3 separate regions of the Homo sapiens genome follow, and regions 1 and 2 are each linked to region 3. The links come from fine-mapping of genetic effects on gene expression. A gene starts in region 3. Each other region holds a variant in brackets. All regions are shown on one strand. Distances are between the middles of the regions.

Evidence for each region. PIP is the estimated chance that this variant, and not a neighbour inherited with it, causes the effect. A credible set is the group of variants that fine-mapping cannot tell apart.
Region 1: its variant is the best candidate, but not a certain one, in a credible set for the expression of RPF2 in skeletal muscle (GTEx, PIP 0.57).
Region 2: its variant is the best candidate, but not a certain one, in a credible set for the expression of RPF2 in whole blood (INTERVAL, PIP 0.63).

The regions. Positions count from the first base shown.
Region 1 is chr6:111,023,010-111,027,246 of GRCh38, reverse strand. RPF2 (ribosome production factor 2 homolog) reads right to left here. Exons shown (of 10, transcript NM_032194.3): 9 at 2,920-3,064; 10 at 1-1,844. The coding sequence ends at 1,665. Among named protein-coding and RNA genes, the nearest start is that of RPF2, 43 kb to the right of the region's middle. The variant C/T (reference allele first, on the strand shown) is at 1,642.
Region 2 is chr6:111,030,532-111,034,745 of GRCh38, reverse strand. No RefSeq gene overlaps it. Among named protein-coding and RNA genes, the nearest start is that of RPF2, 51 kb to the right of the region's middle. The variant T/C (reference allele first, on the strand shown) is at 2,307.
Region 3 is chr6:110,980,399-110,984,642 of GRCh38, reverse strand. It overlaps RPF2 (ribosome production factor 2 homolog), which reads right to left and starts at 2,605. Exons shown (of 10, transcript NM_032194.3): 1 at 2,514-2,605. The coding sequence starts at 2,536.

The DNA of each region.
Region 1 (4,237 bases), 43 kb before region 3:
AGCTATCCGGAGAGGACTAGGGAAAGCTAAGGAATGGATTCAAAAGAGAAGGGAAAGGGTAGAAGGTAAAGCTGAGGCTCGAACTTTTGCTTAGTGCCAGCATTGTTGATCTGTAGCTGAGCAAGCTTACATAAAGGCATGTATACACAGGCACGGAGCTCTCTAACATGGAATTGAAGTGAAACCCTGTCTCTACAAAAAATCAGCCAGGCGTGGTGGTGGGTGCCTGTAATCCCAGCTACTCGGGAGGCTGAGGCAGAAGAATGCTTGAACCTGGGAGGTGGAGGTTGCAGTGAACTGAAATCGCGCCACTGCACTCCAGCCTGAGCGACAGAGCGAGACTCTGTCTCAAAAAACAACAAAAAAGAAAGCACTGGTACTTCATGTAACAAATTATGATTTGCGTATGTCTGTACCTTTACAACATTACTGGCACTTGTATAAAGGAGATTCCTTGTCAAGGACTGAATCAAGGAACTTAACACCCTATTCCAGAAAAACAAGTATGCAATACTAGTAGAAGGAAGAAGAAAGCTTCTGTTTTCCTAGGCACAAGGCCTGTCTTCAAGAAACTTTCAAAACAAGTAGTTAGGCTTTGGCTGGCTTCTACACCATCTGCAAACGCCCAGGGCCTTCATGCAACCTTTAGCTACCTAGGGCTACCCAGTACCCTAAAGTGCCCTGCACCTTAAAACTCACCTGTTTTCTCCTTTTTCATTTCTGCCCCTATCAAAACTTCTTTTCTGCCAGGTGCAGTGGACCAACATCTGTAGTTCCGGCTGCTCAGGAAGGTGAAGTGGGAGGATCACTTGAGCCCAGGAATTTGAGTCCAGCCTGGGCAACACAGCAAGACCTCATTGCTTTAAAAAAAAAAAGTAGGGCTCAGTGGCTCATGCCTGTAATCCCAGCTACGTAAGAGGCTCAGGCAGGAGGATTACTTGAGCCCAGGAGTTCAGGGCTGCAGTGAGCTGTGATTGTGCCACTGCACTCCACCCTAGGTGACAGAACAAGACCCCATCTCTTAAAAACAAACCAACCAAAAAACACAGGTTTCGTCTCAGAGAAGCGGGGTGGGCTCTACTTAGTAGTAGAGTCTCTTAAAACAATCAACAGTAGTGTAATTTATCAATAATCAGATAGCAGACATCCCTCTCAGAGATCTATATATTTTCAGCCACAAAGCTTAAAATCTCAAATGTCAACGAGTAGGATTTCAGGCAAAATAAAAGTAGAAAATAAAAATCAGAATGTAGATCCATGTTGGGAGAGGAGGTTAACTTTCCAGGTAATTCATACTGAGATTGTTTACACAGCTCCTGCGGGTCCGGCTTTCTGTGGCTTTCTTTAGCTAAGGCCAGAAATTCAAAAAAATCCCAATGGTTATGGAGATCCCTCCTCACCCATCCATCCACCCAATGAGAAAGAAGAATTTGTGGAGGGCAGGGGATATCACAAGAGAAAATGGCACACCAGGGTGTAATGTCTCAAATAAAAGGCTTACTTTACACTTAATACTAGTATATTACTGTTCATAATAATATATCGTAAAATTATCATGTTATAAAAATATATAATAAGATCTTATAAGAAACTCTGAATGGATTGACGCTTGATAATTCTCTTAAGTAGAACACAATGAAA[C/T]AGTAGTGGCTGGCTAAGTTCCATCAATTTTTTTTAATTCTTTTTGACTTTTTCTCGTGGTCTTCTGTTATCCTTTCTGCAGGTCGCTTCTTCAACCCCTTCATTTTCCTGGTTTGTAGTTTGCTTAGGTCTTGCTTCTGCATATGAATCCTTCCATAAGTTGTACCAAAAGTATCATGGGAAATATTTTTCTTCTTCTTTGGCTACGATAAAAGAATATGTATATATTTAATGGCCTTCTACTATAATGAGCCAGTAAAAATCTAGTCTGTAACAACTATCTTAGTAGCAATTTCCATTAGTGCCTGCCCCTTCAGTGACACAGTATATAGCCCTATACACTTTTCTTCTCAAACTTAAGTGTGCATACAAATCACTTGGGATCTTGCTAAAATACAGATCCTAATTCAGTATGTCTAGGGTAGGGCCTGATATTCTGCACAATTCCCAGGTAAACTGTCAGGCCACACTTTGAAAAACAAAACTATAAACTACACTAACCACTGTCACACATCAAGAAAATAGCCTGTGTTTAGCTTAAGAAGTTGTGACTATTGTTTCAATTTCTATTGGCATTTTAGAGATTACATTTCTTCTTGTCTTTTAAAACTACTTAAAAAGTCAAAACACATTTTATGCACATATGGTTTATATACCCTGTACTCTAAATCCTTAGCCTTTACAGTGTACCAAACAACTCTCTTTCTTTTGCTGAAAACAACAGTCTTGACTATCAGAAGGCACTTAGCCAAACCTCATGTCTGGGTTTTGCAACTCTTTTTTTATTATCCCTTATTGTTGGCTTATTTGGTTCTCTCTCCTTTTCCTGGCTCTGTGAGTCCTAGTTTAATCTATTGTATTGATCTCTTTATATATGTCCTTGTCTTTTTTTTTTTTTTTTGGCTCACTCTGTCACCCACGCTGGAGTGCAATGGCGTGATCTCTGCTCACTGCAAGCTCCACCTCCCCGGTTCACGCCATTCTCCTGCCTCAGCCTCCCAAGTAGCTGGGACTACAGGCGCCCGCTACCACGCCCAGCTAATTTTTTGTATTTTTCATAGAGACGGGGTTTCACTGTATTAGCCAGGATGGTCTCGATCTCCTGACCTTGTGATCCACCCACTTCGGCCTCCCAAAGTGCTGGGATTACAGGCGTGAGCCACCGCGCCTGGCCTGTCCTTGTCTTTTAATATAATATGCCACAAATTCTTTTTGGAAAGAAAAAGGATTAAAGTAGAAAATACAAATAAATGTGGTACCAAGCTCTAAGTTATATACCTTGAGAGCTTTTGGCATTTTCATAGATAATTTATAAAGGTCATCCGATGCCAGGTGTGTCCTCCTCAGAACCAGATCCAATGAGGGTCCCATCTCTTCCAATTCAATCCGTGGTGTTCTGCAACCAGATTTCTTCAACAGCAACCTTTAGGAAATAGGTAAAAAGAAATGTTGCTTTGACTTTCATAAAAGTCCTCTCCACCAAATATTTTTTGTTCAGGGGATTTACAATTCCATTAAATGATATAAAATGTTTAGAAAGACTTACTTAAATACTTAATACTATTCAAGCCAAGTATATCCTTTGGTTCACATCTTCTTTTATAAATTTTTTTTTTTTTGAGACGGAGTCTCGCTCTGTCCCCAGGCTGGAGTGCAGTGGCGCGATCTTGGCTCACTGTAAGCTCCACCTCCCAGGTTCACGCCATTCTCCTGCCTCAGCCTCCCGAGTAGCTGGGACTACAGGCACCCGCCACCACACCTGGCTAATTTTTTTGTATTTTTAGTAGAGATGGGGTTTCACCGTGTTAGCCAGGATGGTCTCGCTCTCCTGACCTCATGATCCTCCTGCCTCGGCCTCCCAAAGTACTGGGATTACAGGCATGAGCCACCATGCCCGGCTTTTCTTTATAAGTCTTTTATCCCTTTTTGAGCTAAAGGGTCACACAAATATCAAATTAAAAATTTTTTTTTTCTCTTTGAGGTCAAGGGCAGTTTGCTTATTTTTAAAAATCAGAAATAAAATTATACAATATTATTGAGAAACAGCAAGTGAGATACAAAATTATTCTCAGAAATGAAATAAAATCCTTTGATTTGACTTCTTCATCTTACTCATAGATTTATGTATGTATAAAAGTAATTATAATTGGCTTTTTCTTTGAAACAGTATGTTTATACGATTAACAAGTTCTTATCTAAGACTGTAGGAGTTAAACCAACCCATTCAGAATCAACTTTTCCTCATAGCACAGACATTTACTAACTTCCTTACATTGAAGTGAACTTTAAAATCTTAAAATAACAAAACCACAACTTTCTGAATACCCTATGTCTAAACAGCTCTGGATCTGGAAACACTGGTGGAGGAGAACTGGGGAATACAGGCAGGATAAAGTGATGGTGGAGCAGCCAGGCGTGGTGGCTCACGCCTGTAGTCCCAGCACTTTGGGAGGCTAAGGCAGGCAGATCACCTGAGGTCAGGAGCTCCAGACCAGCTGGCCAACATGGTGAAACCTCATCTCTACTAAAGACACAAAAAATTAGCCAGGCGTGGTGGCACATGCCTGTAGTCCCAGCTACTCGGGAGGCTGAGGCA
Region 2 (4,214 bases), 50 kb before region 3:
ATATGTTGCCCAGGCTAGTCTTGAACTTCTGGCCACAAGCAATACTCCTGAAATTATACGTGTGAGCCACCGTGCCTGGTCCTATTTTTATTTTTTTAGAGACAAGGTCTTGCTATGTTACTCAGGCTGGAGTACAGTGGCTATTCACAGGCATGATTATAGCATACTAAGGCCACCTGGGCTTAAGGAACTCTCCTGCTTCAGTCTCCTGAGTAGCTGGCGAAATCCCCTTTGCAAAAATTATAACTGAGGAAATTATGACAGTGAAAGAAATCAGACCTAAACAACTCCATCTTGCTTCTAACCTTTAAGCTGTCCTTGTTCATCCCTGGGCATAGGCTGAACCAACTTTGGGAAGGAATTCAGTTCATGGTTTGACTCTAGAAACAAAATTGGTAATAGCTCTTTCCTGAAACGACCCCCTTCTTGCCTGGGGACCAGTCTGCCTTCGCAGGACTAACAAATTAGCTACAAGGCTAGAAATTACAGTTTAGGGGTCATGCAGCCTCTGGCTCCAAGAGTCTGAACCTTCCCAAATTGCTCCTGGGGATAATATCACCATTGTGAAACCTACGATCAGAGCTATTGTGCAGACCCTGCACTCGATGGATCAGCTGACACCACCCAGACGGCAATCTGGCTCAACCAGTTCTGCCATCCCACCCAGGAACAGAAGAGAGCAAGAAAAATTCACTTCCGCCCCCTGTGAGTCCATCTCCAACCTGACCAATCAGCACTCCCCACTTCCCAAGCCCCTACCCGCAAAATTATCTTTGAAAACTCTGATCCCCAAATGCTCAGGGAGACTGATTTGGGTAATAATAAAACTCTGGTTTCCCACATAGCCGGCTCTGCGTGAATTACTCTTTGTCCATTGCAATTCCCCTGTCTTGGTAAATCGACTCTGTCTAGGCAGCCGGTAAAGTGAACCCTTTGGGCACTTAACTGGGACTACATGCTCACCACCACACCCAGCTTAAAACTATGCATTTTTTTCAGTGGTAAGAAATACAGCAAAATGTTAATTACCTGGTATTACCTGAGATTACAGATGACTTTTATTTTCATCTTTGCAACTTTCCCTTTGATTATCAGAAAAAAAGTTCGTTTTTTTTTTTTAAATCAGAAAAATATTCCTTGTATTTGAAAGAAAATGCTTGGCCTGGTGTGGTGGCTCACCCCTGTAATCCCAGCACTTTGTGAGACCGAGTCGGGCAGATCAACTGAGGTCAGGAGTTCCAGACCAGCCTGGCCAACATAGCAAAAACCCATCTCTACTAAAAATACAAAAATTAGCCAGGCATGGTGGTGGGCGCCTGTAATCCCAGCCACTCAGAAGGCTGAGGCAGGAGAATCACTTGAACCTGGGAGGCGGAGGTTGCAGTGAGCCAAGATCCGTGCCACTGCACTCCAGCCTGGGGTGACAGAGCAAGACTTGTCTCAAAAAAAAAAAAAAGAAAAAAGAAAAAGAAAAACAAAAAGGAAAGAAAGAAAATGCTTTCTAAATTGTAAACATATACAGTGTCAGGTGTTATTCCCAATGCCTGAAACATAATAATGCTTGATAAATGTGGAGTGATTGGTTATTGTCCTGTGAAAGTTGAACCATAAGAATTGGGTCATTCTTGTCAGATCCAACTAAAACAGAGTCAAGAAGCTAGGAGGAAAAACATTCAGGGTACCAAAGCATTGCTCCAAGAATAGACTTTCTTTGCAAGCCTGGCTGCTGAAGCTGCTTGTTGTAAGCTGAAACCAGTTTTATCTATAGCTTCTGAGATAACTTGCTACAATTCTAGGACTAATTTTGCCCTCTGCTGTTGCTCACCGATCAGAGCTCCCAGCTCCCCAAACCCACAGTGCCAACGAACTTTCTCAAAGAGCAATACATAACATTTCTCCTTTTTAATAAAACCTCTGGCCTTTTCTTTGTTCTTCAGACATTCCGAAGACCACCCAGTCTGCATGTATGTCTGAACTTATAAATTCTGAAACCACCCTCACAGGGTCGACAAGAATTGCATGTTAGGTTCTGGCCAGAAATGTAGTTATAATTTATCATTAATCAAGCTGCCCTTTGGCCCACTTCCTTGTTGCTAAATCACATAGCACTAGATACTGACCATCTGCATCCCCACTGTATGATGGACAGGATTTCTGACATCAGGGTCATAAGACTAAGAATTGACTTGCATCCCCATTGTTCCTACAGGGTCTCTGAACATTAGATCATAACACTTTTGTTTAAGGATCACTTAAAATGTTTTTCAGGGCCAGGTATGGTGGCGAGAGCCTGAAATCCCAGCACT[T/C]TGGGAGGCCGAGATGGGAGGACTGCTTGAGGCAGAGTTCAACCAGCTTGGGGAACATAGCAAGACCCCGTATCTTCCTACAAAAATATTAAAAAATTAGCTGGCCCTGGTAGTGCGCGCCTGTAGTTCTACCTATTTGGGAGGCTGAGTTTGGAGGACTGCTGGAGCCCAAAGAGTTCGAGGCTGCAGTGAGCTATAATCACACTGGGTGACAGAGCAAGTCCCTATCTCAAAAAAACAAAAACAAACAGATGTTTTTCAGACCCCGAATTCCAACAAAACAGCTGATGCCAACCAGCTTGAAGATCCCACCAGAGGAAGGGGATCAGTATGAGAATAGTTTCTTCATCTCCCTGTCCTATGACTTCACTTTGCACTCTTTCATCAATTAACAATCTCTAAAACCCTAAAAAATCCTAACCTCAAATTCCTTAGAATTGTATCTGAGGTTTCTTCCCATCTCCTCATTCAAATTTTTCTTTTCTTTTCTTTTTCTCTTGAGACAGGGTCTCACTCTGTCGCCCAGGCTGGAGTGCAGTGGCGTGATCTCAGCTCACTGCAACTTTCACCTCCTGAGTTCGAGCGGTTCTCCTGCCTCAGCCTCCTGAGTAGCTGCAATAAATAGCGTGTACTACTGTGCCCGGTTTATTTTTGTATTTTTAGTAGAGATGGGATTTTGCCATGTTGGTCAGGCTGTTCTCGAACTCCTGAGCTTAAGCGATCTGTGCGCCTTGGCCTCCCAAAGTGCTGGGATTATAGGTGTGAGCGACCATGCCCGACCTCCTGGTTCAAATTTTTATGATTCTTCTTCTTTCTCTGCTGCAACCTGGTGTCTCAGTGTATTGACTTGCTGTGTGCCTCAGGCAACAAATTTATTATGGTTACAATTCTTTCTCCCAAGTAAAACAAATTTAGAGATTCGTCTCTACAATTTTGACTTCAACGCTCTACCGGGAAAGTATCTGTTTCAAAAAAGGAAATGGGTTAACACTCTTAACTCTCAGGGAACCCAGGCTGGCTCCTAGTGATGACTATTTCCAATTCTAAGTAAGAGCTCATGAGGCACCTACATGATTCTTCTTATAATTTTGCCAGAGTCAAAACTAGAAGGTATCTGTCACCAGTTCTCTGCCTCATTCTACGTCCCCATAGTTCCTTCAAGATTAACTGAATGTGCATGTTTGGAATGGAGACTCAGTTATTTCAAGCGGCCAGGTGCTTTGCATGCCATATTTCACCCACCTTGAGGTTAGGATAGAATTACTTTCGGGAGCCCTATTTCTCAATCATGATGGCTACTCCTCTCATTTTCTAAGAATGGAGATAACATGGGAATTTCATCAGCCAGTATTATACCAGTTGCCTTATCAAGTCCCCTTTTAAAATTCTTTGTCATACTGCTACTACTACTACCACAAAACAAAGCCACATTGATTGCCCTTTGCATTTCTTGAGTCTGCAAACATTTTCACTTTTCTTAGAGAACCATATTACTAATTGGTGTTGCCCATGGTTTTATGCACTGTATCTTTTAATTGTCCTTTTAAATCTCAGCTGAGCTCTCAGAGTAGCAGGCGAGGGTTGTGTCGGTTTCATTTAATGCCACACTCCTTCCCACAACACTGCCCTGTCTGCCACTCCCACATACTCTCCTGCCCGTATGGTGATGCTGCTTTTGAGCTCTCATGCCACTTGAGCTTTGATTGATTTTTCAAGATTCTGTCTAACCTTTCCCCAAGGTCACCCTTAATGGAGGAAGGTGCTGGGGGTAAAATTCAAAACATATTTGTGGCATTCACTAGCTTTGACTGGGGAGCCAGATGGATGAAATGGGGCCTCATGGGGACAGTAAAGAATTCTCACGCTCTCCCAGTGCCATAAACCGAGCGGCCTCCGAAAGGCTGAGCC
Region 3 (4,244 bases):
TTCTCGAACTACTGACCTCAGGTGATCCGCTCACCTCGGCTCCCAAAGTGCTGGGATTACAGGTGCGAGCCACAAGGGCCGGCCAAAATCTCACTTTTTTGGTAGATATTAGTAAAAGATATTTCCTTATTATTGTTAAATAAGTGTTTTGATAGCTTTTAAAAAAAAGCTTTCATTTTTGTATTCCCACCATTCTTTTATTACTGCTCTTTCCAATCTTTTTTTTAAGTAAAAAATAAAAGGCTCAAGTAAATACTGTTGCTGTTTTTTTTCTCTTACTCTTTCTTACTCTTCTTTTTTCTTCAAACTTTAAGTAGTCAAACTGTATCCTGTACCCTAATACAAAGAATTGAGCATCAACTGCTGATCAACCTGTGGACATTTACTAAACATAAGACTAACGACTGCTTATTTTTCTTTTAGGTTTAAGACCACAATGCCTGCCAGGAAGTATACACTGTTGCACTCCAACATCATTGCTGAGAATGCCAGTATTATTGCCAACAATGGGGAATAATAAGGCTGATGTTTACATGGAGTCACTCTATTAAGGCTTAATCTTCACCACAATCCTGAGAGTTACAATTCTTATTTATTTATTTATTTATTTTTTTGAGACAGAGTCTCGCTCTGTCGCCCAGGCTGGAGTGCAGTGGTGCGATCTCGGCTCACTGCAAGCTCCGTCTCCCAGGTTCACGCCATTCTCCTGCCTCAGCCTCCCGAGTAGCTGGGACTACAGGCGCCCGCCACGACGCCCGGCTAATTTTTTGTATTTTTAGTACAGACGAGGTTTCACCGTGTTAGCCAGGATGGTCTCGATCTCCTGACCTCGTGACCCACCCCCCCGCCTCAGCCTCCCAAAGTGCTGGGATTACAGGCGTGAGCCTCCACGCGCGAGTTACAATTCTTATCTTCACTTTACAGATGAGGCAATTGAACAGACAGGTAATGTGCCCAAGATCACACAGCAAGTAAACAGGCCAATTTTTAAAATGAGCTAGGGCTGGGAGGTGGCCCACAGCCTGTAATAAAAACACTCTAGGAGGCCAAGGTGGATGGATCACTGAGCCCAGAAGTTCGAGACCAGCCTGGGCAACAATGCAAAACCCTGTCTCTACAAAAAATACAAAAATTAGCTGTGGTGGTGTGCGCCTATAGTCCCAGCTACTCAGCAGGCTGAGGTAGGAGGACTGCTTGATCCCAGGGAGGTCGAGGCTGCAGTGAGCTGTGATGGGGCTACTGCACTCCAGCCTGGGTGACAGAGTGATACCCTGTCTCAAAAAAAAACAAATTTTTTAAAGCTAGATTTAAAAATTCGTCTAGACCAATTACCCTGTAAAATATGAAGGGAAAATAAATTCATTATTCTGACTTTATGATGTGACAGTAGGAGTGGCATGTTTTTACACACTTCTGTTCAAAAGAGGGGCTTCACCTCTGCTTCCTCTACAATGAGCACCTTGCTTTTCAGACAGTTCTCTGCCATCTACTGAAAGAATTCTTCCTCCCAAATAATTATGACCCTCCCTCGTCCAGTCCCATGGACACTTTGGGAAGAAAAAGAGACCATACATACACTTAAGTTTCCCATGTAGATTTTTAAAATACTCCTCCAGATATAATGTCACATATAAAGCTTCTGATCATTTACTGGTTGATAAAGATACAAATTATTCTATCTTTTGTATCTCATTAAACAGCAACAAATGCAAATAGCAATTAACATGTTTTATTAGCTGCCTGCTCCCAATTAACGTGTGAACTAGTCCCAATACCTAGTAAACTACTCTTTGTAGTCCAAACAGCTAGAGGCATAGCAGGTGTGCAAAATCTCTGAATGACTAAAACTGTCGTTTTGGATACATGTTAACTTAGGTAAATAGCAAGAAAATCACAGCAAGTAACAGCAGGGCTGTTTAGCCCAAATATTCTTGAACAAATTTAAAACAGGTATCATTCAAGGATAACTCAGAGGAGTGTACAAAGTTGGAAGGAAAAGAAAAAACTAATGAACATTTCTACGTGCTGCAGCAAAGGCTCTACATACATTCTCGAAACTAACCCTCACAGCTCTATGAAGTATGACTATGGTGAGCGCTATTTTACAGAATAAGCTAAGATTTAGAGATATTTAATGACCCAAAGTCACAAAGCTTTAAGTGGACGCGCCAGACTGTCACTCAGATCTGTCGGATTCCGAGGGCTGTGCTCCTAACCCCACTATACCATCTGTCTCATACTTCGGAAGTCAGACGTTTTTCAACTGGCTAGGATAAAAGCGGCCAACGCTTCAATCCCACATCCCTCCCATCCCACGGCTCCCACTTGAGAGCTTCCCCACTGTCTCCTGGCAAGCAGCTCGCGCTGAGGAGGACCCGGGCTGGTGATCGATCGGCCCCCACCCAGGTAATTAGAGGGGTAACCAGGAAGAGTGAGAGGCCGAGACAGTACCACCCTCATCACGGGACCCTTTCACCCCAACGCTCCCCGGGGCTGAGACCCAGCGCACTTACACTACTCGATCCAGAGTGTCCATCGCTACCGCTACCTGCAACTCTTAACCAGGGGGCATGCACGTGCCCTCGGCGATTACGTGCGCCGGAACAGGCGGAACCGGAAGCTGCGCGTAACGCCACTTCCGGGGACGGCCTCGTAGAGGGCGTCTAGAGGCGCTGGCGGCCATCTTGATTGGAATCGCGCCCTGTTGTCTTGGTTACGGATTTTTGCCCCGGCTCTTTCCTGGAGTTACAGGTGCGAGGTAATACTTTTAAGTAACACTGGCCGGGCGTGGTGGCTCACGCCTGTAATCCCAGGATTTTGGGAGGCCCAGGCGGGCGGATTACCTGATAACAGGAGTTCGAGACCAGCCTGGCCAACATGGCGAAACCCCGTCTCTACTAAAAATACAAAAATTAGCCGGGCGTGGTGGCGGGCGCCTCTAACCCCAGCTACTCGGGAGGCTGAGGCAGGGAGAACTGCTTGAACCCGGGAGGCGGAGGTTGCAGTGAGCGGAGATCGCGCCACTGCACTCCAGCCTGGGTGACAGAGCGAGACTTCGTCTCAAAAATAAAATAAAAATAAAATAAAATAACATAGACCCTCGCAGTTTGATGTACGCGCTAGTGTGCATACCTGGAGTCAGGTATTCAGAAACCAGATTTTATTCTTCAAGGAATCCCAGGATGCTAGAAAGGTTGATTGATTGCACGGTAGGTACTCACATAAGCACTAAAAACATTGATGTGAAAGGGGCACTATTGACAACTATGCGATCTGTGTGACAGAATTTATGACTACCACAGTTGCCTAGTACATAAAAGATGCGCAGAAAATGTACTGCTGTTCGTGATTTTTCCCCAGTTTTTAAGTTACCATATACTTCACATACCATAAAATGTACCCCTTTACAGTGTACAATTCAGTGATTTTTGGTGTATTCACAAAGATGTGCAAATATCACCACTAATTCCAGAATATTTAATCACCTCAAAAAGAACCCCCCTGACACACACACCCAGTAGCAGTCCATGCCCCACTTCCCCCTCCTGCCAGCCCTTGGCAACCAATAATCTACTTTATGTTCAATGGATTTGCCTATTCTGAACATATATAAATGGTTTCGTGCAACGTATGGCCTTTTGTGTTTGACTTCTTTCACTATCTTTTTGAGGTTCATACATGTAGCGTGGATCAGTACTTCCATTTTGTTAGGACTGAATAATATTCCTTTGTATGGATATACCACATTTTGTTTATCCATTTATCAACCTAGGTACTTTTTTTATTTTAGACATAGTCTTGCTCTGTCGCCAGGGCTGAAGTGCAGTGGTGCGATCTTGGCTTACTGCGCCGTCCACCTCCCGGGTTCAAGCAGTTCTGCCTCAGCCTCCCAAGTAGCTGGGATTACATGCACGCACCACCACACCTTGCTAACTTTTGTATTTTTTAGTAGAGACAGGGTTTCACCATGTTGGCCAGGCTGGTCTTGAACTTCTGAGCTCAGGTAATCCACCCGCCTTGGCCTCTCAAAGTGCTAGGAATACAGGCGTGAGCTACTGTACCCGGCAGCTTATGTACATTTGAATGGTTCCTATTTTTTGGCTATTATGGATTATGCTGCTTTGTGTTTTTTTGTTTTGTTTTGCTTTGCTTTGTTTTGTTTCTGAGACAGAGTCTCACTCTGTCACACAGGCTGGAGTGCAGTGATGCAATCTCAGGTTACTGCAACCTCCATCTCCTGGGTT